Homo sapiens: one gene and its partners. The protein of the gene in region 1 purifies or fractionates together with the protein of each later gene. This does not show direct contact. Each region holds a gene or a part of one and is shown in the gene's direction. Other genes may lie near its edges.

Region 1 (4,599 bases):
ACACCATACCATTTATCCCAAATAACACTTTGGAGATATTGGATATTGAATATAAAGACAGACATTAAGGGTCTAATTTCATGATGTGTCATGCTGAATTGCAAGATGGCAGGACTATAATTTTAGAGGAAGAAGAGATCAGGAGGACTCCCCTAAGTGAGGAGTGTGGGGAAAATGTAAAAGATCCAGGTTAGAAGAAAGAGACACACATCATGAGATTTTCGGAATCATGCTGGAACTATGGACCATGTCACTTTCCAGAAAATAAAGGAAACAAATGCTTGAAAGTAGGAGCATGAGCTTGAGCATGGAGCTTTTTTCATTAGAGAGAGATTCTTAAAATGCCAGAATGAATAGAGTTGTAAAACTTTAGCGAGCCCCTACTTAAAATCCCTCCTCCCCACCACCACTATTTTAAACTTTAAGTGACTCCTTGGTAGTCACACAGGTAACATTTCAAAATGGTGATCTGGAATCCAAGCGACCCTTCCTTTGGGGAATTTGTTTGTTTGTTTGTTTTTAGTTTGGGAGGTGGTTTCAATCTGAAGAGTCCTTTCTGGAATAAACGAATCTTTCTGTTGCATAGGAAGGCTCTGGGTCAGGAAGGATATTTAAAAACCTAATTACTGTTCTAAACAGTGTTAAAATAGAACAAGAACCAAAGCTCAGTACGGGGCATTTCCCTCATAGGCTGAAGGTGCGCCCAACATAATTTGGAGTACAGACTCAGAGGCACCTGAACACGCGCCAGCTCAAGGTGCTCCGGCTGAGAAGGACGGATGAAGATGAACGCTCAGGGCCTACTAAATTCAAAGTCTGTACGTGAAAATCCCCTTTGGCCTGGTGAGATTGGTTGGAACCTTCTATTTAGGAGAGCCCGGCTCGCTCGCCTAAAACTGGAGCTTGCATGGAAGAGGGCACTTTTTTTTTTTTTAGACGAAGTCTCACTCTTGTCGCCCAGGCTGGAGTGCAATGACCCGATCTCGGCTCACTGAAACCTCTGCCTCCTGAGTTCAAGCGATTCCCCTGCCTCAGCCTCCCGAGTAGCTGGGATTACAGGCGTCCGCCACCACGCCCTGGCTAATTTTTGTATTTTTAGTAGAGACAGGGTTTCACCATGTTGGCCAGGCTGGTCTCGAACCCCTGACCTCAGGCGATCCGCCCGCCTCGGCCTCCCAAAGTGCTGTGATTACAGGCGTGAGCCACCGCGCCGGACCAGAAAGAAGGCACTTCTTAATAGTAGGCTCAGAGCTTGAAGTAGTAACTTTGAGAAAATTCAGTGATTCTCCAATTACAAAGCATTCTCCAATTACAAAGCAAGGACAACAGATAAAGTTGCCCTTGAGACAACTGTATTTTACTTAATGATAAAGAAACATTTTTGCAGTTTTATATCCCAGAGTAACCGCCACTAAAGGCGAGTGAGACTCATTGCAGGCCTGTACAGTGCGAACCAGAGTTCGGGCTCCAGTTCCGCTGTCTGCGGGTCTCGCGCGCCCCCTCCCGGCGGCCCAGCCCAGAATGAAGGCCTTGGCTGGGGAAGCGAAAGCGAAAGCTGCCCGAGCCCTGACGCCCGCCCTGGCCGAGCGTAGCTGGCGGACCAGAGCCGGTAGCGAGGTTGGGAGAGACGGAGCGGACCTCAGCGCTGAAGCAGAAGTCCCCGGAGCTGCGGTCTCCCCGCCGCGGCTGGTGAGTTGGTGCGGAGGGGAACCTGGAGCGCCAACAGGGACGCAGCCCAAGTGACTACCCACTCCACGCTCCTGCTTCCCAGTCCCTCTGCACCCGGCGATAGGAGGGAGCGGAGCCCGGACCACTTAGCTCGCCGCGGCAGGCGGGGGTGGGGGTGGGGGTCCGGGGATTTTTTTTTTTTTTTTTTAAGCACGAGGCTCCTGATGGTCATGCTTCCAGCTCCCCAGAAGGCCGAAAGCTGTCTGTCGTAGGAGGGGTGTACGGATGAGCACCGGTTACTCAGGAGAGCTCTCAGGGTTGAATAGGATAAAATGAGAAGCCGATGGACGGGTTAGGCGGAGCCGGGCGGGTAGGAGGGCAGGGACAAGGATTGGGACTCCACCCCCATGATTTCTCATCTCGTATCCGTTGACAGAGCCATGCGGCTCCCTGACCTGAGACCCTGGACCTCCCTGCTGCTGGTGGACGCGGCTTTACTGTGGCTGCTTCAGGGCCCTCTGGGGACTTTGCTTCCTCAAGGGCTGCCAGGACTATGGCTGGAGGGGACCCTGCGGCTGGGAGGGCTGTGGGGGCTGCTAAAGCTAAGAGGGCTGCTGGGATTTGTGGGGACACTGCTGCTCCCGCTCTGTCTGGCCACCCCCCTGACTGTCTCCCTGAGAGCCCTGGTCGCGGGGGCCTCACGTGCTCCCCCAGCCAGAGTCGCTTCAGCCCCTTGGAGCTGGCTGCTGGTGGGGTACGGGGCTGCGGGGCTCAGCTGGTCACTGTGGGCTGTTCTGAGCCCTCCTGGAGCCCAGGAGAAGGAGCAGGACCAGGTGAACAACAAAGTCTTGATGTGGAGGCTGCTGAAGCTCTCCAGGCCGGACCTGCCTCTCCTCGTTGCCGCCTTCTTCTTCCTTGTCCTTGCTGTTTTGGGTGAGTCAGGAGAGGACGTTGTGAGTTGGAGGTGGTAAAAGGGCCTGGGCACCAGCACATTCTTGTGTTATTTTTCATGCCTCTTTCAGGTGAGACATTAATCCCTCACTATTCTGGTCGTGTGATTGACATCCTGGGAGGTGATTTTGACCCCCATGCCTTTGCCAGTGCCATCTTCTTCATGTGCCTCTTCTCCTTTGGCAGGTAGGTGGTGGGCAGCTGGGTCCATTTGCTAGCCCCAAATCTTTATAGGGGTCTTCACTTCCCTAACTCCATTTCTAGGCCCTTTCAGGCGCAAAACACAAAAATACTTAAACTAAAATATGGTGAATGTAGTCACCATTCTGTTTCATCTATCCATTCATTTCTTCCTTCGTTCATATTCATCCAATATCTTCAAAGTTTATCTGATCTTATTATAGGAACAAGTTATGAGTGAAGGTAGTACAAAAGGAATTTAAGTCTCAGATGGAATGTCTCTCAGTTGTCTCTCAACATTCCTAGGTCCATGAAATTCCATTTCTTTCTGCCTCCTACCTCCTACCCCTAAGTCTGTCTCCAAAGTATCTCTCCAGGGTCACTCCCTCAGGATGGGTATGCTTCTCCCTTTCACTCTTCTTTCCCAGCTCATCTTGCCAGTCCCTGAAGATCTTACTCTGAGGCTTATCACCTTTCTTTCCAGAATCATTACTCTTTTCCCTTCACTTGCTTTCCTTTCTCTTTCTAGACATACTCAAACAAACAAACTGTTTGATAAGGCTGGGACTGGGATGAGGTGAGCGAGGCACCTGGGGTGCAAAGTTTAAGGAGGTGTGCACTCACCTTACCCAAATCCCAGCCGGCCTGATTGTCTCTATTTTTATGGTCATACTTAATTTAGAGTACCCTCGAAAACCATTTCATTGTGCCTTCATTCCATCCTGGCTGCTTTCTGCTGAAACTACAGTCGTGCACTGCATAACGAAGTTTAGGTCAATGATGGGCCACATATAAGATGGTGGACCCACAAGATTATAATACCATATTTTTACTGTACCTTTTCTATGTTTAGATACACAAATACTTACTTCTGTGTTACAGTCGCCCACAGTGTTAGGTGCAGTTATATGTTGTACAGATTTGTAGCCTAGGAGCAATAGGCTAAACTACATGGCCTAGGTGTGCAGTAGGCTATGACATCTAGGTTTGTGTAAGTACACTCTATGATGTTCATACAACGATGAAACCATCTAACGACACATTTCTCAGAACACATCCCTGTCATTAAAGTACAAACCCTCATTATATCATGTCTGACTCTCCCAAACGCCTCTTCAATATGGTAACTAAATTTGTATTAGAAACATATATTTTGTAAAATACATGCTTTTATGCTTTATATTTTTTCCTCTAAGTGTTACTGTAGCATGTAGTTGGTCTAAGAGGGATTTTCCAACTCGAAGGATGAAAGATGGGAATCACATGACTCTGGGGCTCCAGAGAATTGTGGGGGCAGGGAATTTATTATTGCAGTTCCCATGATGAAGTATCTATGATGACAGAGAAGGGCTTTGGGTATGGGGCAGGAAGGAGACCAAGGCGGAGGAGACGCACAGAGGGACAAGCCTGAGGGACGCTGGGACAGAAGCAAGCACTGGGATACTTGTTTTCACAATATCTTTTCCCTTCTATTGTAGTTTTCTATTGTGTCTAGTACAGAGTGCACTCCATAAATACTTGTAAATTTGTACATGTTATGATTTTGTTCTCACATCTAGCTCACCATGTCTCCTCTTTCTTCTTCCTCTGTGTATTCCTTACCTCTTCTCTCTCTGTGTGTCTGTCTCTCATTTCTTTCTCTTTTGCCCCTCCTGGCATGCTTTCCCCTGACTTTGCGCTTCTCTGCACTCCTGGCTTGCTCCTCTGTTTCACCCGCTGGCTTGCTCCTTCTCTGCATCTCCCTCCCCTCTTATTCTCCTACCCCACAGCTCACTGTCTGCAGGCTGCCGAGGAGGCTGC
Region 2 (4,131 bases), on another chromosome or scaffold:
AGCTGGGATTACAGGCACGTGCCATCACATCCGGCTAATTTTTGTATTTTTAGTAGAGATGGGGTTTCTCCATATTGGCCAGGATGGTCTGGATCTCCTGACCTTGTGATCCACCTGCCTCGGCCTCCCAAAGTGCGGGATTACAGGCGTGAGCCACCGCACCCAGCCCTCTTTTCTTTTGAGACGGAGTTTCGCTCTTGTTGCCCAAGCTAGAGTGCAATGGTGCGATCTCGGCTCACTGCAACCTCCGCCTCCTGGGTTCAAGCGATTCTCCTGCCTCAGCCTCCTGAGTAGCTGGGATTACAGGCACATGCCACCACGCCCAGCTATTGTTGGTCTCAAACTCCTGACCTCATGATCCGCTGGTCTCAAACTCCTGACCTCATGATCCGCCCGCCTCAGCCTCCCAAAGTGCTGGGATTATAGGCGTGAACCCCCGTGCCTGGCCACGGCTGGTCTCTTTGATACCAGTGTCCACATAGTTAATTACTAGATCATCAGTGATTTATTTGGTTGGATTCTATATATGAAACCTGTGTTACTTTGACATGCTGGAGTCCATTGCTGTGGGCATTGTGGTCTGTAGCCTATTTCTCCCCCCTTGGATTTCTTTTTTTTTTTTTTTTTTTTTTTTTTTTGAGACAAGAGTCTCGCTCTGTCACCCAGGCTGGAGTATGGTGCTGTGATCTCGGCTCGCTGTAACCTCCGCCTCCCGGGTTCAAGCGATTCTCCTGCTTCAGCCTCCCAAGAAGCTGGGATTACGGGTGTGCGCCACAACGCCCAGCTAATTTTTGTATTTTTAGTAGAGACGGGGTTTCACCATGTTGGCCAGGCTGGTCTCAAACTCCTGACCTCAAGAGATCTGCCCCCTTCGGCCTCCCAAAGTGCTGGGATTACAGGCATGAGCTACCGCCCCCGACCACCCCCTCAGATTTCTTAGAGCTATTTGTTTGAACCTCATGAGCCCTGAGCTTTGAGTCAGAAAATACTATGTCTGGACTTAGTAAAGGACCTTAGAATTTTTAGCCATCCACCTTTTCCCTAAATGTCTCAAAAATTCTTCATTTTATTTTATGCAAAAAAAAATTTTTTTCTAGGAAAATTCTTAGGCATAGTCTGTTAGCTGCTCTTTTTTCTCTACCCCTAAATCCTTGAAGCCACAGAATTTCTTCAGCTCAGGCATTACATTTGATTCATGAAATATATATATGTATTTTTTTTTTTTTGAGTCAGGGTCCTGCTGTGTCACCCAAGCTGGAGTGCTGTGGCACCATCTTGGCTCACTGCAACCTCTGCTTCCCAGGCCCAAGCGTCCTCCCACCTCAGCCTGCAGAGTAGCTGGGACTACAGGCATATAGTACCATGTAATTTTTGTATTTTTCGTAAAGACAGGGTTTCACCATGTTGCCCAGACTGGTCTTGAACTCCTGAGCTCAAGTGATCCACCTGCCTCGGCCTCTAAAAATGCTGGGATTACAGACCTGAGCCACCGCACCCAGCATGAAAACATATTATGTGGGCAGTCAGTCTTTCACAGCACTCCCCATACAATATGACCTTTGTTTTAAAATGGAACATTGCTACTTCCTGTAATCTGGGGAACCCCTAAATCTGACTTGGGAAAGAGCTACAAATCTGCCCAGGGCACTATGCTCCTAATCTGTCGTGGGTAGTTCCTGCAATAGGTGTGCTTCCTGGGGCTGGCAGGGGCTGGGCACGCTGAGTGGAGGGCTCAGGGAGGCAGGGATTTCCTGTTTATGTGGACTGCTCATGTGGACACAAACGTTCAGAGATTGGATGTGAGCATTATCCACCTTCTCATGCTTCATTCTTAGATCAACAAGTTGGAGAAAGCTGTTGCTGCAGCACACACCTTCTTCGTGGGCAATCCTGAGCACATGGAAATGCAGCAGAACCTAGACTATTACCAAACCATGTCTGGAGTGAAGGAGGCCGACTTCAAGGATCTTGAGACTCAACCCCATATGGTGAAAAAAACTTTATCCCCTTCTTTCTTTCTTTCTTTTTAAATTTATTTTAGAGACAGAGTCTTGCTCTGTCACCCAGGCTGGAGTGCAGTGGCTTGATCATAGCTCACTGTAACCTCAAATTCCCGGACTCAAGAGACCCTCTAGTCTCGGCCTCCTGAGTAGTTGGGACTACAGGCATGCATTCTTTTGTTTTTTTTTAAATGACATTACTAAGGTTGTTTTCTAATTACATTACAGAAGTAATGAATGTTCATTGTATAACATTGTAGAAATGTAGGTAAGTATAAAATAAAAAGTAATCATTTGTAATACCGCCACCTTAAGAAAACCAGTTTATATTTTGCCCTATTTTTTAAGTCTTCCGTATATAATTTTTTCATCTAATTTGGTGTTATATCATGTATGCATTTTTTATCATCTTTTTTATTTTTTTTGAGGCAGGGTCTCACTTTGTTGTCCAGGCTGCAGTGCAATGGTGTGATCATAGCTCACTGCAGCCTTGACCTCCTGGGCTCAAGTGATCCTCCCGCCTCAGCCCCACAAATAGCTGGGACTAGAGGCATGCACCACCATACCCAGCTATTGTTTTTATTTTTTGTAGAGACGGGGTCTCACTGTGTTGCCCAGGCTGATTTCAAACTCCTGGCCTCAAGCGATCCTACTGCCTTGGGCTCCCAAAGTGCTGGGATTGCAGGTGTGAGCCACCATGGCCAGCCCCATCATCATTTTTTAACTAACATTATTATCATGAGTCTTTTCTCATGTCTTCAGTTTTATTTGAAAACATAATTGTTTATGGCTGCATGATAGTCCATCTTATGCAGAGACTATATTAATTCACTAGTCACATTTTTTTGGTCATGTATGTTTTTGATTTTCACTACAATAAATGTTACAGTATCCTTCAATGTTCTCATTCTATTTGTTTAGCAGGAAAAGTTCCAAAGGAGGGACTGTCTGTGATGATATAGCATTTTATAGAGAGTTTATGGTTCCTTACATTTTAATTATAAAATAGGAATGTTAGAAACAATATAAGAATGACTTATAGGCCAGGCGCAGTGGCTAACACCTGTAATCCCAGCACTTTGGGAGGCCGAGGTGGGTGGATCACTTAAGGTCAGGAGTTTGAGACCAGCCTGGCCAATATGGTGAAACCCCATCTCTACTAAAAATACAAAAATTAGCCAGGCATGGTGGCATGCACCCGTAATCCCAGCTACTCGACATGGAGGCAGGAGAATAGCTTGAACCTGGAAGGTGGAGGTTGCAGTGAGCCAAGATTGTGCCACTGCACTCCAGCCTGGGTGACAGAGCAACAGTCAAAAAAAAAAAAAAAAAAAGAATGACTTTTAAAAGTAAGTTGTGGCCAGGTGCAGTGGGTCACACCTGTCATCCCAGCACTTTGGAAGGCCAAGGCGGGCGGATCACAAGGTCAGGAGATTGAGACCGTCCTGCCTAACATGGTGAATCCCTGTCTCTACTAAAAATACAAAAATTAGCTGAGCGTGGTGGTGTGTGCCTGTATTCCCAGCTACTCAGGAGCCTGAGGCAGAAGAATCGCTTGAACCCAGGAGGCGGAGGTTGCAGTGAGCCGAGATTGTGCCACTGCACTCCAGCCTGGGTGACAGAGCGAGACTCCATCACACACACAAAAAAAAGTAAGTTGTGTTGGCCGGGCGTGGTGGCTCATGCCTGTAATCCCAGAATTTTGGGAGGCCGAGGTGAGTGGATCACTTGAGGCCAGAAGTTCAAGACCAGCCTGGCCAACATGGTGAAATCCTGTCTCTACTAAAAATACAAAAATTAACCAGGTGTGGTGGTGTATGTCTGTAATCCCAGCTTCTCAGGAGGCTGAGGCGCTAGAATCACTTGAACCCAGGAGGTGGAGGTTACAGTGAGCTGAGATCATGCCACTGCCCTCCAGCCTGGGCTGTCTGTCTCAAAAAAAAACTCTGTCTCAAAACAAAACAAAACAAAAAGTAAGTTGTGTTTATTTGAAAACTGTTAGCCCTACAAAAAAGTGCAAGAACCTAGGCCAGGCACGGTGGCTCATGCCTGTAATCCCAGCACTTCGGGAGGCCGAGGCGGGCAGATCACCTGAGGTCAGCAGTTCAAGACCAGCCAGACCAACATGACA
Region 3 (4,131 bases), on another chromosome or scaffold:
GCTCTGGGTCAATCTGGTGACAGATGGCCTGCCTGCCACTGCACTGGGGTTCAACCCTCCTGATCTGGACATCATGAATAAACCTCCCCGGAACCCAAAGGAACCATTGATCAGCGGGTGGCTCTTTTTCCGTTACTTGGCTATTGGCTGTGAGTACAATTTTTTTATATTACTGATTTTTAAACAAAATGTTTGTGAGCTGAAATTTTGTAAATTCATCCCTTAAAAGCGTGTTTTTTCTTCTATCCCCGTATAGGGTAGCAAAAGACAGAGATGCCCTCTTACAGTTCGATGAACTATACATCCAATTTACCAGAGTCCTTTCACAGTTAGTTCCAGTTTTAGCATCCTGCCCTTACTTGGGCTTTTCTGAATGAGCAATTAAACATCAGGGTTTTCAGATTGAGCCCTCTGTGCAAAGGGATAAGAATGATTCACGCTAGGTTCTGCCTTCCAAGAGTTCATAGGTGGGATTTAAATAGATAATTGTCACCAAGTTATAAAATTTAGTCCCTGTTTCCATAAGAGAAGGGTTGCGCAGTGGCTGGTCCCTTTTATATATAAATCATCTCTTTAGCCCTCATCTTCCTCACCCCGGGTTCTTCCCCATTTCATAGATTGGGAAAGTGAGGTGAAATCACTTCCCTGGGATCCCATAGGAAGGCATTGTGTTTTCATAATATATTCACATGACTTCAAATTCAAAAAGCACACAATGGCATAGAATGGAAAGGGTTTGGGCCAGTCACTTCCCTCTGGCGTTGAGGTGCTCATGTACCCTGTGCCCTTCCGGAGAGATTCCAGCATGCTGTGCACACCTGCATGTTGACCCTTGTCTTGCCTTCTTCCTGCTTGTCAGATCCTTCCATATCCGGACATGCGTAGTGCCTCATCCTTGCAGCCAGCGGCCTTCATGCTCCACTGTAATTCGTGGGTTAGTGGGTATATGCACTTGTTGTTTTTGATGCTACCACATGGGGATATTTGCCTCGTCTGAACTCTGTGTATTCTCTGCTGCACCTTGTTGCTTCTTTGCAATAAACTTCCTGAACTCAAAGCTAATACTGGGGGGAATCCCAGAAGCTGCTGAGGGCAGGGCCATGCTGCTCAGTGTTCCACCCTAGCTCCTGACAGCATTTCCCTAGAAAACTGCTGCTGGGCCTCTAATGGAGCAAATAAATCTGTGTACAACTAGGCAGCAATAGTTTGTCCAAAAGTCCTGGTGTAATCTAGTCCCTCAAACTGTGCAGCCTTACATGGAGTACACACACACTTGCAGCCTTGAAGTACTACCCACTGAGGGGAGAAGGCACGGCAAGGGGAAAGGTTGGCACAGGATGGAGCAAGTGCTTTTTCTCACACATTCTGGAGGAAAAGTTATCCAGTTCTTCTGTTCTAGAAACACCCCTGTCCTTCAGAAACCAGGGTCTAGTTGCTCTGGCTACCAGGCGTGAGCAGGTGGTGGTAGCACCACAGGCCCCGGTTACCATCACTGTCCCATGTCTTTGATCTTCGTCCTTGTGGGGACTGGCCTGCATGGCCTCGGTGGCAGCGAGCCCTGCAGAGGCAAGTGCATCAGCATCACTGTGTTTGTTCCCAGGTTACGTCGGCGCTGCTACCGTGGGTGCTGCTGCATGGTGGTTCATTGCTGCTGACGGTGGTCCAAGAGTGTCCTTCTACCAGCTGGTACTCAGTCACCTTTCTTTCTGTACCTTACATGAGAAGTGTTGTGAGGCCTTGACCTTTCTGTGGTTTCGGTATCTATCAAATCATCTTAAGACTCAGACAATAAACAGTTACATCTAAGATGATTCTGAAGGACCAGGGCTTCTCCGAGAAATTGGGGTAAACCTCTTGGCTGGCTCTGCATTCAGGCTGGTCTGTGCTAGGCTTGGTATGGGGTTGGAGCCTGGACTTGGGAAATATACTGGGCTGATAGGAATTTGATTGGATTTTCTTGCAGAGTCATTTCCTACAGTGTAAAGAGGACAACCCGGACTTTGAAGGCGTGGATTGTGCAATCTTTGAATCCCCATACCCGATGACAATGGCGCTCTCTGTTCTAGTAACTATAGAAATGTGTAACGCCCTCAACAGGTTAGTGCACCTTCACGGCAGGCTGAGGCGAGCATGGTGACTGCCAGGGCACCGGGGAATTGTGTGTAGTCACGGTTGATTGAGGATCACAGGACAGTTCTTCCCTTCCCAAAAGAAAGGAGAACAGGCAATACCAGTTTTAAAAGCATGAGCTGTCGTCACCTCCAGGAAGTAGTGGGAGTGCTTAGCCCTGTGTTTCTTAGGAGCTCTTCCTTAAAAGAAACCGTGGGGGCCAAAAATAGGAACTTTGGTACCCCTGTATGCCAGCACCCACAGGGAAGGAACCTCACCCTTTCACACAGACAAATGGTACCATCCAGTTAAGCCCGTGACAAAAATGGAAATTTCTAAATAGCCCAAGTCTCCAGGGCAATTGGGAACAGCTTTGAACCCACTAAGATGGGGTCTGCTATGCCAAAACATAGATACAGAATTCACAGTTTGTCCTGCATTAGGACATTCTCTTCAACTTTGCCACTGTAGAAAGTGGAGGTAGGTCAGCGGATGGTGCCACATTAACAGCCGCCTTACTGAAGTGTAGTCCAACAGGGTCTTACTGCCACTGTGACACGTGCCTTGCCTTGGGGGTGCGTTTCCCCACCTCTCCTTGCTCTGCAGCTTGTCCGAAAACCAGTCCTTGCTGAGGATGCCCCCCTGGGAGAACATCTGGCTCGTGGGCTCCATCTGCCTGTCCATGTCACTCCACTTCCTGATCCTCTATGTCGAACCCTTGCCAGTAAGTGGTTGGGTGGGGCTTGGGACCAGCCACCTCCTTCCAGGGGAGGCTGGAGGCGTGACACGTCTTCCCTGTGTGTCAGCTCATCTTCCAGATCACACCGCTGAACGTGACCCAGTGGCTGATGGTGCTGAAAATCTCCTTGCCCGTGATTCTCATGGATGAGACGCTCAAGTTTGTGGCCCGCAACTACCTGGAACCTGGTAAAGAGTGTGTGCAGCCTGCCACCAAATCCTGCTCGTTCTCGGCATGCACCGATGGGATTTCCTGGCCGTTTGTGCTGCTCATAATGCCCCTGGTGATCTGGGTCTATAGCACAGACACTAACTTTAGCGATATGTTCTGGTCTTGACTGACAGTTTTCCATAAAGAAGATGTTTAACTTAATCAATTAATTTTTTTATTGTTTAAAGCAACTGTCTATTTCTGCTGAATTTTCACATGAACATACTGGCTGGTGATGGAGGTTTCATACTCTAGATTTTGTTTTGCTTTTTCTGACTCCAGTGGGGCAAGATTTTCCTTTTTTATACACATAATTAAAGTGTCCATTGACATGTACAGAGAACTAACACTATTTTATGCAAATATTTTTTTGTAGATGAAAAAGCATGTACAGTGTTCTGTTTAATACTCATCCTTGTATAAAAAAAATAGTTGAGCCAGCAGACATTGTCAGCAAATTAATTGGCAGCAGATTTTAGGAAATGAATGTGTGTGGTTTTTTTTCTAAAACTAAATAGCATGTATTGTGTCTTTTGCATGATGATCCGGATTTAATTTGATATCACAGTCTAATTTTTATTCATAAGCCAATTTTTCTGCACTGAGCAGAGTCTTGCTACCTCAGTCAGTATTGTTTTGGTTTGCTACTTCCCTCACCCACTTTGGCCTCCGTTCACCCCACCCCACCCCACCTCTCCCCACCTTACCCCCGCCCCGCTTGGCTTCTTCTTTAGGATTGTGATGGTTCGTTCTGTTTACATCAGTTTTAACGAGAGGTATGCCTGTACTCGCTTGTGCAGAAAACATTGTTCCAGATTCAATCGACTGGGTTTATGTCCCTTCACATAGTTTTTAAGGTTATTTATTTAAATGTCTAATGTATTTTATTGTAACAGACATTGTTTTGCCAACATTGCCTATTTCAGTGGCACGTCATCTAGTTTTAAAAAAATAAAACATTTTAAATGGACAGAGAAAAATAACTGTCTTGTCTTTAACTCGTAAGTGGCTTACCTGGGACTAACAGACATGTCCAACTTTCTCTCCAGTTCTTAGCTCAGAACTTTAGTTGT
Region 4 (4,131 bases), on another chromosome or scaffold:
CAAGGGGCTCTTCTGCTCCGCTAAGCTTTGGAGCACCAAGTTCAGGCTTTGTGTAGATAAGCTCAAGGATTTTTCAACAGGGGTGGGGGAGTGGAACAATCTAAATTTAAACTATAGAATCAACATTTTCTTTAAAAATTGTTCCAGTTTTCAAGAGGCGTAGGTGGATCCTGTGAATTATGTGATAATGCACACGCTTTTCCTACATCCTGCTTATGTCAAAACATTTCCAGAGACTTTCATTTTGGAGGTTTTATTTTCAGGCTACAGAATGGGCTGGGCGCTCCCTTTTTTATCTCTTATGCAAAGAATTTTAAGGAGTCTTAGGCTGACTTTTTAATATGGGAAGCTGGTAAAGGTCAGTGTTCTTATGTGAGCACTAAAGATATTTAAATTTGATATGTAATAATGTCTTTGCAAAGCAAAGAATATAAACAGTATAAAAGTACTAGCATTTAGATGTATTGTATCATTTAATCCTTAAAAACATGAAATGAGGTTGGCACTATTCTTTATCTCCACGCTGTGGAAGAGGAAATTGAAATGTAGAAGTTAGTAACTTGCCTAAGGATACACTGCTGGTAAGTGGTAAAGCCCAGGATTTTAACTCAAGGCTGTCTGATTGAGAATGCGGACTCATAAGCACAATATTGCACTCTAAGTTAATAATGTAAAGTTAGTTTCATTCTTTCAGTAGGGAAGATGGAAGGCTGCAGAATAGGGATTTTGATAGCAAAAATCTCCTCATTAACCCCAAAAGGAAGTGGCACTGGCAGGGCCATTCTGAAGCCTACCGGTAGCTTCAGTATTGTTCTTAATGCTCTTGGATGGAGAGAATGTATCTTGAGCCAATGTATTAATAGTAGATTGCTTTGCTTATGTAGTAGGCAATATATGGGTATACATTTTCCTGACTATTATCTTAATGACTATTCCAAATTATGACTACCTTAAAAACTACCAAAATCCCCTGCTCCAGAATTTTCAGTTTCAGATGAGGTTCATAATTCATGGCCTCACTTTTCCCACATTCTCCTACAGGTTGGACGTGATAAGTATGAGCCTGCAGCTGTTTCAGAACAAGGTGATAAAAAGGGCAAAAAGGGCAAAAAAGACAGGGACATGGATGAACTGAAGAAAGAAGTTTCTATGGTAAGTACTAGGAGGAATATTGTATTCCATCCTTATTAAAAATCCATGATTTTTAATCCCCCAGGCCTCACTGTATTCTTCAAAGAACTGCTATATATTAAAAGAGATCATAGCAGCTGTACAGATCTCATCTAGTCGTAGAGGTTAATGTTGAACATATACTTTTTAAAAGCTGTTAGAGGGTAGGAAAAGTTATTCAGTCACTCTGGCATAACCAGAGATAACAGAAGGAACTTAGGTTGATACCATGAGTCTTTGCTTTTCTCTGTATTATATCAAACATTGGGAAATTCAGCCTCTCCAGGCGATGGAAGCTTCCATAGACTTAACCTGTCTAGAATCGACCTGGTCATCAGAGAAGGCAGATAAGGTTTTACTAGATCCCTGAGAGCTGCTGGGTTTCTCTGAAGTGTTATGGCAAATAGTAATGGGCCACGGTCACTCAGCTTTAGCCATTCTCCAGTGAAGAGCTGTCAATGATAACTGTGTGGTTGCAAAGCCACAAAGCGATGGTGAAAATTGTACCAACTTATGCACTGAAGAAAACATCTGCACTTTGTTTAATAAGCTTAATGATAGTAATGAATAATGCTATTTTTTCTGTCATTTTTTTATACTACACTGTTTAACTATTTTCTTTGTTTCTGTTTTCCCTTAGGATGATCATAAACTTAGCCTTGATGAACTTCATCGTAAATATGGAACAGACTTGAGCCGGGTATGTTCTAGTTTGAAAGCTGTTGTACAAAATCCTAGTTTTCCGTATTATATTTTCCCCTGTATTACATACAGGTCTAACCTCAGGGGCTCTAGTAAGAAAATGACAGACACCATCTGCGTATCTACCATGTGACATGCACAGAATTTGGGCATTTATATGCTACCGTTTCTTTTCCCTGAAACTTTTTGAAAGTAGATGTTATTTTCTTTTCCCTATTTTATAGCAGTTGAGAGCCAGTAAGTGGGAACACCAGGACTTGCAGTTGGCTTCAAAGCCATGCTTATGCCTTGACCTTTTGATGATAAATTTTCCCTTTATTTTTCTACATTTGTTAAATAGAGTTGAATCTTTCACCTAGTTGAATCTTCAACAATTCCCATTTTTGCACTTTTCCCAGCTAGCCCATTGCAGTGTGTTATGGTTATACTATCATTTGTTTAGTTATTCTATCATTTAGTTGGAAATTGTTTTGTACAAAAATTAAAGAAACCTTTTCATAAAATAGGCGTTATGTATCCTTGTTATGTAGAGGATTTTGATATTAAATGTGTAACAAATGTTATAAAAGTAAATAGTCTAGGGATGTCTTATTTCCAGATAATCACTGAAATGTCTGGGAATAACTTGAATAGCAAGCCAATATGTAGCATTTTTTCAGTAAGGCATCAAGAGACATGGGTACTGTGGTATTCTGATATATATTGGTTTTTGTCCACAGTTCCTGGTTCATAACTCCCATAGCCCTTATTACAGTCGTTTGTTATAATGTTGGGTGTGTTAGACCTCAGTGGCAGGCTTCAAGAAACAGGATCTCTCTCCTGCCCTCCTTTTCACCTGTCGCAAGGCAGGACTCTAATCTTGTTCCACTTTTCTGATTTTCCAGGTAGATAGTGTTGGAATTGAATTGGAGGAAACCTTGGTGGTGGGGAGAAACCGCCACACCTTTGCTCACAGAAGTCATCTTCTGTGTTGATTGTTGGGGTGTAAGAGTAGAGAAGAGGCCGGGTGCGGTGGCTCATGCCTGTAATCTCAGCACTTTGGGAGGCTGAGACTGGTGGATCACCTGAGGTCAGGAGTTCGACACCAGCCTGACCAACATGGAGAAACCCCGTCTCTACTAAAAATACAAAATTAGCCTGGCATGGTGGTGCATGCCTGTAATCCCAGCTACTCGGGAGGCTGAGGCAGGAGAACTGCTTAAACCTGGGAGGTGGAGGTTGCAGTGAGCCAAGGTTGTGCCATTGCACTCCAGCCTGGACAACAAGAGTGAAACTCCATCTCAAAAAAAAAAAAAAAAAAAAAAAAAAAAAAAGGAGAGAAGAACAAGGTTGAGAGCGTTTTTCTTGACACAAGCACTTTAAGCTCCAAGAGGAGGCCTCGAGTCAGCTCAGAACAACATGCCAACAGTGACTCTGTGCTTACTTTGTGCCAGGCAGTCTCTAGCCACTTCACATCTCACTTAAGTTTTTATTAGAGTCTTAATGAAGTGTGCTCTCTCCGACCTATGCCCATTACTCAAATGCTGCGGGTCTATTTCTTTACTTATAAAATGAGGTTAATAATGCCTAAAAAAGGATTGTCATGAGAATTAAACAAGTTAATTAAAGCACTGAATTCAGTTCCTGGCATGTAGATAGCACTCAAATGTTTGGTAACATGAGCACAAAACACAGATAAATAGATACTTTAGACAAAAATATTTTATTTTTTTTTTGACTTGTTATTTTGAGAGTATAAAAGTGATCATATTTTCCTCTCTTAATGAGAGCTTATATGTAATTGCCTGCTGTCAGTGAATCTTGGGTTTAAGGCCCATTAGAAAAATAGCAGGCTTTAGTAGAGTGGTTTTTTCCAGTGAGTACTTTTCAGTCAACAGGTTTATTGGGAGGTGGCTAAAATGCACATGGAGGTGAGCCCTTCCCTGCCAGACAAGCAAAGAATCAAGCTGTATATTTAAAACTTGGCTGTTAACCCAAAGGATTTCTACAGGAAGTTTTTTTCTCCTTTGATGTTTGTAGAGGGGTTTTTTTTCCCCTCCCGACAAAATCAATACACAGAAAACCCAAAGCTCTTAATTTGCAAAACTGAATGGATTTGTGAAAATAGATACCTTTTTGGCAGAAATGCAATTTGGCATTAATCCCTTGATCTAAAACTTAGAAGAAACCAGGCTGAATTCAAATTTATTGATGGATCAATTTAAAGAGTTTTAATCTGGGTGTTATGAGTTCCTTGGGCCTATTGTTTGCCTGAACCCT
Region 5 (4,131 bases), on another chromosome or scaffold:
CTCAGCCTGTTGGGTCAGACCTCAGTGGGTCGCACTGGTGGGTGTGGCACCCAGCATGGCGTCTTCAGGCCAGCAGGCACCTGGCGTGTTTGAAGGAATGTGCTGGGATGTGCTGCTGTCCTTCCTTAGCACAGAGGGATGCTGGGTCCCTGCAGTGATCCAGATGCCTGTTTTCCCAGCTGGTCAGCTTGTCAGAGGCTTTAGGATTTTACTACCCAGGGCGCTGGGGCCCAGGCCTGACTGAGGTTTCGTGCCTGGAATAAATGGACACAGGGACCTGCTGCCAGAGACTTGGGCCCTTCCTCATTTAATCTGCAGGAACCACAGGCTTGTTTTTGCTTGCTTTTGTTTTTTTGAGATGGAGTCTTGCTCTGTTGCCCAGGCTGGAGTGCAGTGGCACAATCTCAGTTCACTGCAACCTCTGCCTCCCGGGTTCAAGCGATTCTGTGCCTCAGCCTCCCGAGTAGCTGGGATTACAGGCGCCTGCCACCACGCCGGCTAATTTTTGTATTTTTAGTAGAGACGGGGTTTCACCATGCTGGCCAGGCTGGTCTCAAACTCCTGACCTCAGGCGATCTGCCCGCCTCAGCCTCCCAGAGTGCTGGGATTACAGGTGTGAGCCACCATGCCTGGTGGGCTTGGTTGTTTTTGTTTTTGTTTTTCTGAGACAGAGTCTCATTCTATTGCCCAGGCTGGAGTGCAATGGCATGATTTCGGCTCATTGCAACCTCCGCCTCCCAGATTCAAGCCATCCTGCTGCCTCAGCCTCCCTAGTAGCTGGGATTACAAGCGCCCACCACCATGTTCGGCTAATTTTTGTATTTTAGTAGAGACGGGGTTTCACCATGTTGGCCAGGCTGGTCTTGAACTCCTGACCTTGTGATTCGCCCGCCTCGGCCTCCCAAAGTGTTGGGATTACAGGCGTGAGCCACAGCGCCCAGCCGGGCTTGGTTTTCAATAGCCATGATGCTGCCGAGGGTGATAGTTAATGTCCTGTATAGACTCCAGACATTGAAGAGGACATTTGGCATGGCCAACCACTTGCATTAGAAAAATGTGAAAAATAGCAAGTTGTGAGCACAGCAGATACTTCTTTTGGTCTCCTACCATCTGTGTCCCCCTTGGGCAAACTCATTTCCCCCATTCCTCTTTACAGCTAAGCAAAGGCCTCCAGGAAGGCTTCCTGACTGATCCCACCTGAAACAGAGGGTCCTGCTAAGCGGGGTCCCCTTTGCAGGGTACTTTTCCCAGCTTGGCACTCAACATGCCAAGTCTGTTAAACTCACTACTTTGAGATCTTAAAAATCTGAAGGGTTGACTGGGCACAGTGGCTCATGCCTGTAATCCCAGCACTTTGGGAGGCCAAGGCAGGCGGATCACTTGAGGTCAGGAGTTCGAAACCAGCCTGGCCAACATGGTGAAACCTCATCTCTATTAAAAATACAATTAGCCGGCGTGGTGGTGTGCACCTGTAATTCCAGCTACTTAGGAGGCTGAGGCGGGAGAATCGCTTGAAACCGGGAGGCAGAGGTTGCAGTGAGCTGAGATCATGCCATTGCACTCCAGCCTGGGCAACAGAGTGAGACTCCGTCTCAAAAAAGAAAAAAAAAAAAAACCAATGGTAAAAATAGGGAGTAGTGCAGTGGACTGAATATTTTACTTATTCAAAATGTGGTGCAATGCAAACATATTTGCAGATTTGAATGAGTTCAGTAGAAAAAAATGGATTCATAAGTTGGATTCATAAAAGCAAAAAGCAGAGTAAAACCAAATACACTGAAAGAAATAGCAATTAAAGTAGTATTAAATGAACTCTAGCAAGGCACGGTGGCTCATGCCTGTAATCCCAGCACTTTGGGAACCCGAGGTGGGCAGATCACTTGAGGTCAGGAGTTCGAGACCAGCCTGGCCAACATGGTGAAACCCCATCTCTACTAAAAATACAAAAATTAGGCCGGGCACGGTGGCTCACACCTGTAATCCCAGCACTTCGGGAGGCCGAGATGGGTGGATTGCTTGAGGTCAGGAGTTCAAGACCAGTCTGGCCAACGTGTTGATATCCCATCTCTACTAAAATACAAAAATTAGCTGGGCATGGTGCTGGGCGCCTGTAATCCCAGCTACTAGGGAGGCTGAGGCGGGAGAATTGCTTGAACCCAGGAGGCGGAGGTTGCAGTGAGCTAAGATCATGCCACTGCACTCCAGCCTGGGCAACAGAGCAAGACTCCGTGTCAAAAAAAAAAAAATTAGCCAGGCGTGGTGGCACGTGCCTGTAGTACCAGCTACTCAGGAGGCTGAGGCATGAGAATCACTTGAACCTGGGAGGTAGAGGTTGTAGTGAGCTGAGATCGCACCACTGCACTCCAGCCTGGGCAACAGAGTGAGACTCTATCTCAAATAAACAAACAAATAAAAAAAAATAACTCTAAATAAAGTACTATAGGGTTTATTAATAAAACCAAGTGTGCTTTTGGAAGACTATCAGAATATCAGAATTCTGCCTAAATTTATTAAGAAAAGAGATATATGTATAAGTATACTATCTGAAAAATAAAGCAATTACTACAGATTTATCCATGAATTATGTAGAATTTTATGTCAATTTTTATTAACAAAATTAATTTTGTTCATGTAAAACGAAAAAGACCTCTATCCTGCCTACTTTTTTTTTTTTTTTTTTTTTGAGACAGATCCTTGCTCTGTCGCCCAGGCTGGAGTGCAGTGGCACAATCTTGCTAATCTCCACCTCCTGGGTTCAAGCAATTCTCATGCCTCAGCCTCTCAAGTCTCTCGAGTAGCTGGGATTACAGGCGCCCACCACTATCTCCAGCTAAATGTCTTTTGGGGTTTTTTTTTTTGTATTTTTAGTAGAGATGGAGTTTCACCATGTTGGCCGGGCTGGTCACAAACTCCTGATCTCAGGTGATCCGCCCGCCTCAGCCTCCCAAAGTGCTGGGATTACAGGCGTGAGCCACTGTGCCCGGATTTTTTTTTTTTTTTTTTTTTTGAGACAGGGTCTCACTCTGTCACCCAGGCTGGACTGCAGTGGCACCATCTTGGCTCACTGCAACCTCTGCCTCCCTAGTAGCTGGAATTACAGGCGCCCGCCACCACATCTGGCTAATTTTTTAATTTTTAGTACAGACGGGATTTCACCACATTGGCCAGGCTGGTCTCAAACTCCTGACCTCAGGTGATCTGCCTGCCTCAGCCTCCCAAAATGCTGGGATTACAGGTGTGAACCACCACGTCCGGCCTGTCCTGCCTACTCTTAAGGACTATGGCTTTCAAGAGAGCAGATGACTGTCCCCCCAGCACCCACAGGCCTAATCAGGGCAGGAGCTGGTGGCTTTGCTGGGAGGGGAAGTGAGTGGGAAGCAGCGGGCCGCTCGGCGAGGCACGCAGCCTGCTTGAGCAGGAGCTCTGAATGGTTTCCTTGCCTTGCACAGCCCTGATTGAGTCCCTCAACCAGAAACCACAGACTGCCGGTGACCAACCCCCACCCACAGACACAACCCATGCCACCCACAGGAAAGCAGGTGGGACCGATGCCCCCTCGGCCAACGGTGAAGCTGGAGGAGAGAGCACCAAAGGCTACACTGCAGAACAGGTTGCAGCTGTGAAAAGGTAGATGGGTGGGCAGGGGCTGGAGCCTGGGGAGACTGGGGAAATCTAGAGGCTTCCTGGAGCATGTCCTCCACCTCCCATCTGCCTGTGGGCAGCACAGGGCCCTGGGAGGGTCTTGGAGGATGGAGAAGGTCCAAGGGTCCAGGCTCACCAGGACCTCTCCTTATTTCCCTCAAGGCCCAGGAATACAGTGTGGGAACTGGGGCTCCACCACCCCTCCCGCCACGACCCACAGCAGAGGCTGGAAAAGCTGACACTGCCGGCTTCCTCTGCCGCTGGCCAGGCAGGCCCCAGGCCTCTTTACACAGCTCTGTTTGTCAATAGAGATGGAGCTTTGTCTCCCCCTCCAGATTCTACCCCAACCCACATCCCAGCACCCAACAAAGACCCTTTTAGATCAGAGCCTGTGTGGGGTAGAATGGAGACCAGAGGCAGAGTTATTGCCCCACGGCTGTGAGCAGGCCCCACGCAGAGTAGCTCGCTACCAGGCCAGAGACCACCCAG
Region 6 (4,131 bases), on another chromosome or scaffold:
AGCTCTGCCTCATTGGCCCCTGAGAGGAGAGCGGACAGTTTTTTTTTTTTCTTTCTAGATTTGCTTTTTCTTCCTGCTGTTAGTCCCTCAAAGCCCCCAATTTGTAAGAAATATTTATTATTAATATTTCATTAAGTAACTTTTCTAGTTATTGATTTTTCAGCAAAACAGATAATAATGAAGCAATGGCAGTATTTCCTTTTATTAGGCACATTTGTTTTCAGTTTCACTTTTTACTCAGAGAAGTGTAATTTATAACTTCAAGGGAATTAAAAACAATGTTTAATCTTTTTTTAATGCCCAGTAGGCATACTTAGCTTTGCCAAAACCTTGTCTCAATTTGAATATTTGATTAGAGGAGCTAGGCTCTGTCAGCTGTATCAGATTATGAATTTTTGATAACTTTTACAGTGGTGGTTAAACGAAGTAAGAAATTTCTCTTGAGTTTCTGCTGTGGGAAAGAGCAGAAGTGCTTTTCAAGGTTTCTGGACTGATCTTGTTGAAAATGCTAGTACTGGGTTCTTGTCTATGAATTGGAGTGTTCATGCAAATTCTGGTATATGACTGCTACCCTTTCTTTGCTAAGCACTTGGTTAGCCCATTTTAAGCATAATAATCCATTTCTTGAACACTGACACCTTTTCTTCATAGTGATATAATTAATACCATTGCTCAGATTGGCTTCACCAACTTACTGTGCAGGTCTTTTAGTTATTTATCCGTATTACTGATTTGTCAGAAGATAGTGTAGCTTCTGTATTATTTCAGTTGCTATAATGCAGTCCTTCTCAACCCCGGACACACATTAGAATCACCTGAAAAAACTTCAAAGATCTGTCTCCATATCTATACTTACGTGAAGGTATAATTTATACCTAGATTTATATAAACACAGTATCTCGCCCCAGAACAACTGAGTCACAGAGTCTGGTGGTGGCGCCTGGGCATTGCTGTACATTTAAAAACAACCCCTAGGGGATTCTAGTGTATGGCTGGCTTTGAGGACCACTAATGTAAGGGCCCCCGGGCCTTGGGTTGATACCTTCCTAATTTCTGGAGTTAATTTGGTTCGTTTGGCTAAGCCCACTCTGTGGGCATCTGTGCTTTAAAGGTGGTGACCTGCTTGGATGGAAGAAGACCACTCTTCTGTCCAGGAATGGGAATAGCCACATCCAGATTAACACTTAAAACACCTAAGAGGCTCTCAGTGTGTATTCATGAGAGATATGGGAGTTGCAGTTCTGCCTTGGGAAATCTAAACACACGCATACACATAAGAACGTGATCTGTAGGTCACAGGTGTACATGACATCCTTGGGGGGTGATCAAGGAAATAGGGACCAGTATTGGGGGCCTACCTCTGGAGAGTCTTAGGGGTGTGAGCCTTCAGTTTGGTCCAAAAAGAAGGGATGACTGTTAATTAGCAATGAAGAGAGGGAAGGGCATTTTACTTCAGGAAGTAACATGAATTTCAGACCCTTAGGAGTGTGGTACAGGAAGCGTGCTTTGAGGCAAACCCAGGCTTAGATTGGAGAAGTCCAGGAGGGCTCAGTTGATGAAGGGCTTTATTTTGTAAGTTCTGAACCTCCAGATTTTGGCAGTGAATGCAGAGGTACAGTCAGTTTTCTTTAGGTTGAGTTGCAGAAGCAGTGCTTTGCTGAGTGCAAGCCGGTAGCCAGTTACCAGTCTTTAGGGGACATTCACCTGTATAATAATATGCAGTGGTTTATTCTTATACCAGCTCTCATAGTTTTGTGTCCTTGAGTATGATTGCAACACATAAATTATTTAAAACTGTAGCTAGCAGCTTTATTTTCATTAACTGAAAAAATGGGGTTCTAGAAATGCAGTTTGTTATATCTTAGTAATTACAAACTCTCCATTTCCTTAATCCTCAGATTTTCTTAGTGGCTCTCAGAGCTTATCCCTGAGTAGAGTATTTTCATTGTAATATTAAATGTGGGGATAGAGGACTTGGAGCTGCCTCTTATGGTTTTTGAATCTGGTGTTCTGAGGAGATGACAGTCATCATCATCGGACATTGGTAAAGTCCTTGGCAGTTTCCTATGTGCTCTCGTGTACTGCCTCATTGATCATATTGATGGAGGTATATGCTGCCTAAAGTTTCAGTGTGACTCCGGTACTGTTTCTCCTTGAGCCCAGCTATGGCCTCAACACAGCCTTAGAGGCAGCCATCCCAGTTCAGCTGGGCTGGCAGGTGAGGTGAACTCTGGTGGCCAGTACAGTCATGACAAAGACTCTGCCTGGTGTCTTGCTTGGAGTAGAGACATATGTGACAGGTTTTGACAGTTGATATGCTCAGACTTCTCATTTGTATTCTTATTTCTGTTGGCAAGAGCACAGGTTGTATGACTTTACAAACTTTAGTTTCTCTGTGCCTCTTTTTCCTTAAGACAGTTGGCTGGGTGTGGTGGCTCACACCTGTCATTTCAGCACCTTGGGAGGCCAACGTTTGTGGATGGATTGCTTGAGCCCAGGAGTTCAAGACCAGCCTGGGCAACATGGCAAAACACCATCTCTACAAAAAATACAAAAATTAGACGGGTGTGGTGGTGCACACCTGTAGTCCCAGCTACTCAGGAGGCTGAGCTGCGAGTATTGATTCAGTCTCAGAGGGTTGAGCCTGCAGTGAGATGTGATCACATCACTGCACTACAGCCTGGGCAACAGAGTGAGACCCTGTCTCAAAAAAAAAAAAAAAAAAAGAAAAGAGTTACTATTACCAATGTTCGCAGCAGCATTATTCACAATAGCAAAAAGGCAGAAACCCAAATGTCTATTAACAGATACATGGATAAACAAAATGTGGTGTATACATACCATAGAATATTATTCAACTATAAATGAGAATGAGATTGATACATGCTTTACCATGAACCTTGAAAATATTATGCAAAGTGAAATGAGCAAATGCAAAAGGACAAATAAATGATCTTACTTACATGAGGTATCTAATATAAGCAAATTCATAGAGACATTAAGTAGAATAGTGTTTCCTGGGGCTAAGGGGAGAGGGAACAGGAAGTTAGCATGGCATTTCTGTCTAGGATGATGAAGAGTTCTGGAAATAGATAGTGGTGATGGGTGTACAATATTGTGAATTTGCTTAATACCACTGAATTGTATACTCAATAGTTAAAATTTTAACTTTTTTTTTTTTTCAACTTTTTTTTTTTTTATTGATCATTCTTGGGTGTTTCTCGCACAGGGGGATTTGGCAGGGTCATAGGACAATAGTGGAGGGAAGGTCAGCAGATAAACAAGTGAACAAAGGTCTCTGGTTTTCCTAGGCAGAGGACCCTGCGGCCTTCCGCAGTGTTTGTGTCCCTGGGTACTTGAGATTAGGGAGTGGTGATGACTCTTAAGGAGCATGCTGCCTTCAAGCATCTGTTTAACAAAGCACATCTTGCACCGCCCTTAATCCATTTAACCCTGAGTGGACACAGCACATGTTTCAGAGAGCACAGGGTTGGGGGTAAGGTCACAGATCAACAGGATCCCAAGGCAGAAGAATTTTTCTTAGTACAGAACAAAATGAAAAGTCTCCCATGTCTACTTCTTTCTACACAGAGACGGCAACCATCCGATTTCTCAATCTTTTCCCCACCTTTCCCCCCCTTCTATTCCACAAAACCGCCATTGTCATCATGGCCCGTTCTCAATGAGCTGCTGGGCACACCTCCCAGACGGGGTGGTGGCCGGGCAGAGGTGCCCCTCACCTCCCGGACGGGGCGGCTGGCCGGGCGGGGGGCTGACCCCCCCACCTCCCTCCCGGACGGGGCGGCTGTCCGGGCAGAGGGGCTCCTCACTTCCCAGTAGGGGCGGCCGGGCAGAGGCGCCCCTCACCTCCCAGACGGGGCGGCTGGCCGGGCGGGGGGCTGACCCCCCCACCTCCCTCCCCGACGGGGCGGCTGGCCGGGCGGGGGGCTGCCCCCCCCACCTCCCTCCCGGACGGGGCGGCTGTCCGGGCAGAGGGGCTCCTCACTTCCCAGTAGGGGCGGCCGGGCAGAGGCGCCCCTCACCTCCCAGACGGGGTGGCTGGCCAGGCGGGGGGCTGACCCCCCCACCTCCCTCCCGGACGGGGCGGCTGGCCGGGCGGGGGGCTGACCC
Region 7 (4,131 bases), on another chromosome or scaffold:
TCTCCTAAAAAAATACAAAAAATTAGCTGGGCCTGTTGGTGGGCGCCTGTAGTCCCAGCTACTCAGGAGGCTGAGGCAGGAGAATGGCGTGAACCCAGGAGGCGGAGCTTGCAGTGAGCCGAGATCACGCCACCGCGCTCCAGCCTGGGCGACAGAGAAAGACTCTGTCTCAAAAAATATATAAATAAATAAATAAGTAAATAAAGGTTGTCAGGGGCTGGACTGGGGTTGAGGAGGAATGCTAATGGGTTCAGGGTTTCTTTCTGGGGTGATGAAAATGCTCTAAAATTGGACAGTGATGGTGGATATACAACTAAAACGCTGAATGTAAAGTGATGAATTTTATTGTATGTGAATTATATCTCAATTTTTAAAAGTAACGCTTTATATGTAATAAAATTCAGCATTGATGACAAAATTTAAAGGTCATAATTGGTTATCTTTATTTGCTTGAAAAGGTTTCGTGTTTTCTTGAGTATAAAAAGGAAATGCTTTTAATCAGCTAGAAGATAGGTGACTTGATCATTCAGGTAACAAAAAAAGTCATTAAATTTTCCTTAATAATTGCCTTACAATGTTGCATTAAACTACCTCTTTACCAGTTAATTGGCTATTGGTAGCTGCATATATGTTTAAGTTGGAGTTCTCAAAATTCTGTGAAACCAAGACAGAAGAAACTCTGGATGCTGAATCTAATGTTTGATCAGTGGCATTTTAATTCAGATCAGTTTTCTGTAATTGGTAAACTCAATGCAATAGCCTCTCTTTCCTTAATCCATAGGTAGGTAGGAAGTATTTGGAGGTTTTTTTCTCCTAATGATGCAATTTTTAAAACAATTGCTATTAAAACAATATAATTTATGTGATAGATTGCAAAATTTGCATAAATTTTAAAGCTACACATGTGACTCCAGTGAACTGTATTTTTTGGATTGGCTGTTGACCCCTAGACCCCTGGAGATGCATGTTTACTCTTCTATACAATTTGGGATATTTGAGAGGCACTGATACTTGAGAACAACAGTTGAAAATGCAAGAGTATGCCATCGTTGGGAAGGTGGATTCCACCATTCGCATTTTCCATTCAAGTCTTCAGGAAAAAGAAAAGTATAAATAGATTGCATTTTACACTTTGGTCCATCAACTACCCTTCAAATAATACACATTATTTATAAATTATTGTACTAAGCTATGCATAATAGCCCAGACTATGATACCAATTTTTTTCTACACTGTAGATGGTTTAAGCTATTATACAACATATAACCAAAACTACTTATTGAAGCACCTCCAGCTAATGACAGCTTTCTAATAGTATTTTGTGCCTTTACTTGTGAAAAGCTATCACTAAGTACAGCGTGAAGGCTAGATGACATGCTTCTATAGTTCCTCAGATGGCTAGGCCTGTTTGCATTTCTTAGTTCTCCCTGCTGCACTGTAGTCATTCTTCAGCTTGGTGTAGGGAAAGGGTTAAGGACTTTGAGGAGTTAAACTGACTTTGGTTCAAATCCCTACTCTTTTCTGTCAGTGTTACCTGGATAAATCATTTAACCAATACTGATCTCTTTTAATCCTTATGATAATCTTGTAAATATTATCTCAGGTTTAGAAAAGACTGACTTAGATAAAATAACTTGCCCAGAGTGAAGCGGGGTTTGAACCAAACTTCTTTGACTCCAAAATAGTCTTTAAATTTTATCATTAAGGTAGTAGTGAGATATTAAGGGTATCCAGGCATTAAAAGATAGAATATATAGAAAGCAAAGGTCTTGCTGCAAATCGTTGTCACCATTTGTAAACTGTGTATTGTTGGGAAACATCTTGTAATCCTTCTGATTCTTGATTTTCCTCATCTGAAAATGAGAAGGATGATGCCTCATAAAGTTGTATGTGTTTTTTCTAAGCCTTGCTTTTACTATCATTTAGCCTGGGGGCTGTGATACAATGAGGGATTAGCAGGAGGCAGAAATGAAAAGTTACAGTTAGAGTGGTAGTTGGAAAGGAGGAATGTTTCTGAATAGTCCATGAGCTCCTTTTTGCCCCTGCTCCTAACATATTACCTGGCACATGGTAGACTGTCAAAAGAATGATGTATTAATATTGCATGATGGGGTCATATGTCGTCTGCTATACTTTATTTATAGATAAATTTAAAGTCAATTTGGACTCAGAACAAGCAGTGAAAGAAGAAAAAATAGTGGAGCAGCCTACAGTGTCTGTCACGGAACCAAAGCTGGCAACTCCTGCAGGCCTGAAAAAATCCAGCAAAAAAGCAGAGCCTGTTAAGGTGCTGCAGAAGGAAAAAAAAAGGTAGGAAAATTTTGTTGCTTATTGGGGAAGAGTCTTTACTGGGGGTGAGAAGGTCTCTTTGGGCTTATTGACAGCAGGCAGTTTTCAGTTAAGTACTAAATCCTACTTAATGCCTAAGGGATACAACTATACAACCAAAATGGAAAGAGAAGCCCAGTAGCTTATCTAGTGGAGTAGGACCGTAGGATCAGCCAGTTTGGATGATTTAAGGACCAAAGTCGTGTTTTTGGCCGTATTGATCTAAATTGATTGTTGATTTTTGTTTTAAATTTGTGGACATGGCATAAGTGTGCCTAGTTGTGTGTGTGTGTGTGTGTGTGTGTGTGTGTGTGTTTCACTTCAAATTGCCAAATGAACAGTTACTGTTTCCAGTCAAATTTAAGAGAAAAACTTCTTTGTTTTCTTTTTATATCAATGAGTTTATTTTTCAAGTGGTAAAATGTAATTAGAAAAGAAAATAAAAAGCACATAAAGCTATTAAAACTAGATCCAGGAATTGGAGACACTACCTCATAGTTGGTAGAATTAGTCTGCTGAAAGAAATTCTAAAGGACACTGTCAACACTGATAGGCCTAGAAAGACGACTTTTGTGGCAAGTTTGGGACTACTCTCGTTGAAAACATCAACAAAATGGTGAAATTTTAGAGGGTTAAAGCTCTGTCCAGTGGGCCTCACCACCTAGGAACATATGACTTGTATGGATTAAAATGTCCACAACCATGGGTACGTCACTCACTGTTGATACTTATTGCCAGCAGTGCATTCAGTATTTCACTACTAAATGTGATGATAAATGTAGATTTTTAATAGATGCCGTTAACCAGATTGAGGAAGTTGTTTTTTGTTCCAAGTCTGCTAAGAGGTTTTATCATGAGTGGGTATTGATTTTGGACAGATGCTTTTTTGAATTGATTGGATGCTCAGATGGTGTTTTTATTAATGTGGTGAATTACACTGATTTTAAAATGTTAGGCCAACCTTGTGTTCTTGGGATAAACTCCACTTGGTTATGATGTATTATCCTTTTTTATATATTGCTGGATTAGATTTGTTAATATTACACTAAGCATTTGTTGCCTGTGTTTATGAGGTCTACAGGTCAGTTACATTCTTTTCTGGTAATGTCTTTATCAAGTTGCTGTGTCAAAATTGTGCTAACTTCATAAGATTACTCATGCGCTGCATAACGATGTTTGGGTCAACAATGGGCTGCATATATGACAGTGGTCTCGTAAGATTATAATGGAGCTGAAAAATTCCCATTGCCTAGTGACATCATAGCTGTCATGACATGGTAGCGCAACACATTCCTCACGTGTTTGTGATGATGCTGGTATAAATATACCTACTGTGCTGCCAGTCATGTGAAAGTATATCATATATATTAATAGTTATATATACATAATACTTGATAATAAAAATGACTATGCTACTATAATTACTGCACTATACTTTTTATCATTTTAGAGGGTAGTCTTTCTACTTATAAAAAAAGTTGACTGTAAAATAGCCTCAGGCAGCCCTTAGGAGATATTTCAAAAGAAGGCATTGTTATCATAAGAGATGACAGCTTCATGTGTGTTACTGCCCCTGAAGAAGACCTTCCAGTGGGACAAAATGTGGAGGTGGAAGACAATGATCATTGATGATCCTGACCCTGTGTAGGCCGAGGCTAATGTGTGTTTGGGTCTTAGCTTTCAACAAAAAAAGTTTAAAAAGTAAATAAAAAATTTTTAAAATAGAAAAAGGCCTATAGAATAGGGATATAAAGAAGAAAATATTTTTGTACAGCTGTACAATTTTTTGTGTTTTAAGCTGTG

Evidence for each region.
Region 2: the proteins of TAP2 (region 1) and P3H1 purify together in Homo sapiens (co-immunoprecipitation; one large-scale study listed by IntAct). This does not show direct contact.
Region 3: the proteins of TAP2 (region 1) and ATP2A2 purify together in Homo sapiens (affinity purification with mass spectrometry, with the first as the bait; one large-scale study listed by BioGRID). This does not show direct contact.
Region 4: the proteins of TAP2 (region 1) and ATP1A1 purify together in Homo sapiens (affinity purification with mass spectrometry, with the first as the bait; one large-scale study listed by BioGRID). This does not show direct contact.
Region 5: the proteins of TAP2 (region 1) and DNAJB12 purify together in Homo sapiens (affinity purification with mass spectrometry, with the first as the bait; one large-scale study listed by BioGRID). This does not show direct contact.
Region 6: the proteins of TAP2 (region 1) and UBAC2 purify together in Homo sapiens (affinity purification with western blotting; one study listed by BioGRID). This does not show direct contact.
Region 7: the proteins of TAP2 (region 1) and POLD3 purify together in Homo sapiens (tandem affinity purification; one large-scale study listed by IntAct). This does not show direct contact.

The regions. Positions count from the first base shown.
Region 1 is NC_000006.12:32,835,743-32,840,341, reverse strand, and holds the start of TAP2 (antigen peptide transporter 2), read left to right. Parts: upstream 1-1,602; 5' UTR 1,603-1,689; intron 1,690-2,104; 5' UTR 2,105-2,108; coding exon 2,109-2,601; intron 2,602-2,690; coding exon 2,691-2,805; intron 2,806-4,568; coding exon 4,569-4,599. UniProt on the Homo sapiens protein: ABC transporter associated with antigen processing. In complex with TAP1 mediates unidirectional translocation of peptide antigens from cytosol to endoplasmic reticulum (ER) for loading onto MHC class I (MHCI) molecules.
Region 2 is NC_000001.11:42,760,180-42,764,310, reverse strand, and holds part of P3H1 (prolyl 3-hydroxylase 1 isoform 1 precursor), read left to right. Parts: intron 1-1,835; coding exon 1,836-1,988; intron 1,989-4,131. UniProt on the Homo sapiens protein: Basement membrane-associated chondroitin sulfate proteoglycan (CSPG). Has prolyl 3-hydroxylase activity catalyzing the post-translational formation of 3-hydroxyproline in -Xaa-Pro-Gly- sequences in collagens, especially types IV and V.
Region 3 is NC_000012.12:110,343,286-110,347,416, forward strand, and holds part of ATP2A2 (sarcoplasmic/endoplasmic reticulum calcium ATPase 2), read left to right. Parts: coding exon 1-149; intron 150-1,600; coding exon 1,601-1,686; intron 1,687-1,963; coding exon 1,964-2,097; intron 2,098-2,715; coding exon 2,716-2,833; intron 2,834-2,915; coding exon 2,916-3,185; 3' UTR 3,186-4,107; coding exon of another isoform or gene 4,108-4,127; 3' UTR 4,128-4,131.
Region 4 is NC_000001.11:116,382,973-116,387,103, forward strand, and holds part of ATP1A1 (sodium/potassium-transporting ATPase subunit alpha-1), read left to right. Parts: intron 1-397; exon of another isoform or gene 398-581; intron 582-1,041; coding exon 1,042-1,152; intron 1,153-1,810; coding exon 1,811-1,870; intron 1,871-4,131. UniProt on the Homo sapiens protein: This is the catalytic component of the active enzyme, which catalyzes the hydrolysis of ATP coupled with the exchange of sodium and potassium ions across the plasma membrane.
Region 5 is NC_000010.11:72,344,446-72,348,576, reverse strand, and holds part of DNAJB12 (dnaJ homolog subfamily B member 12), read left to right. Parts: intron 1-3,449; coding exon 3,450-3,627; intron 3,628-4,131. UniProt on the Homo sapiens protein: Acts as a co-chaperone with HSPA8/Hsc70; required to promote protein folding and trafficking, prevent aggregation of client proteins, and promote unfolded proteins to endoplasmic reticulum-associated degradation (ERAD) pathway.
Region 6 is NC_000013.11:99,238,558-99,242,688, forward strand, and holds part of UBAC2 (ubiquitin-associated domain-containing protein 2 isoform 1 precursor), read left to right. Parts: intron 1-4,131. UniProt on the Homo sapiens protein: Restricts trafficking of FAF2 from the endoplasmic reticulum to lipid droplets.
Region 7 is NC_000011.10:74,623,264-74,627,394, forward strand, and holds part of POLD3 (DNA polymerase delta subunit 3), read left to right. Parts: intron 1-2,144; coding exon 2,145-2,310; intron 2,311-4,131. UniProt on the Homo sapiens protein: Accessory component of both the DNA polymerase delta complex and the DNA polymerase zeta complex.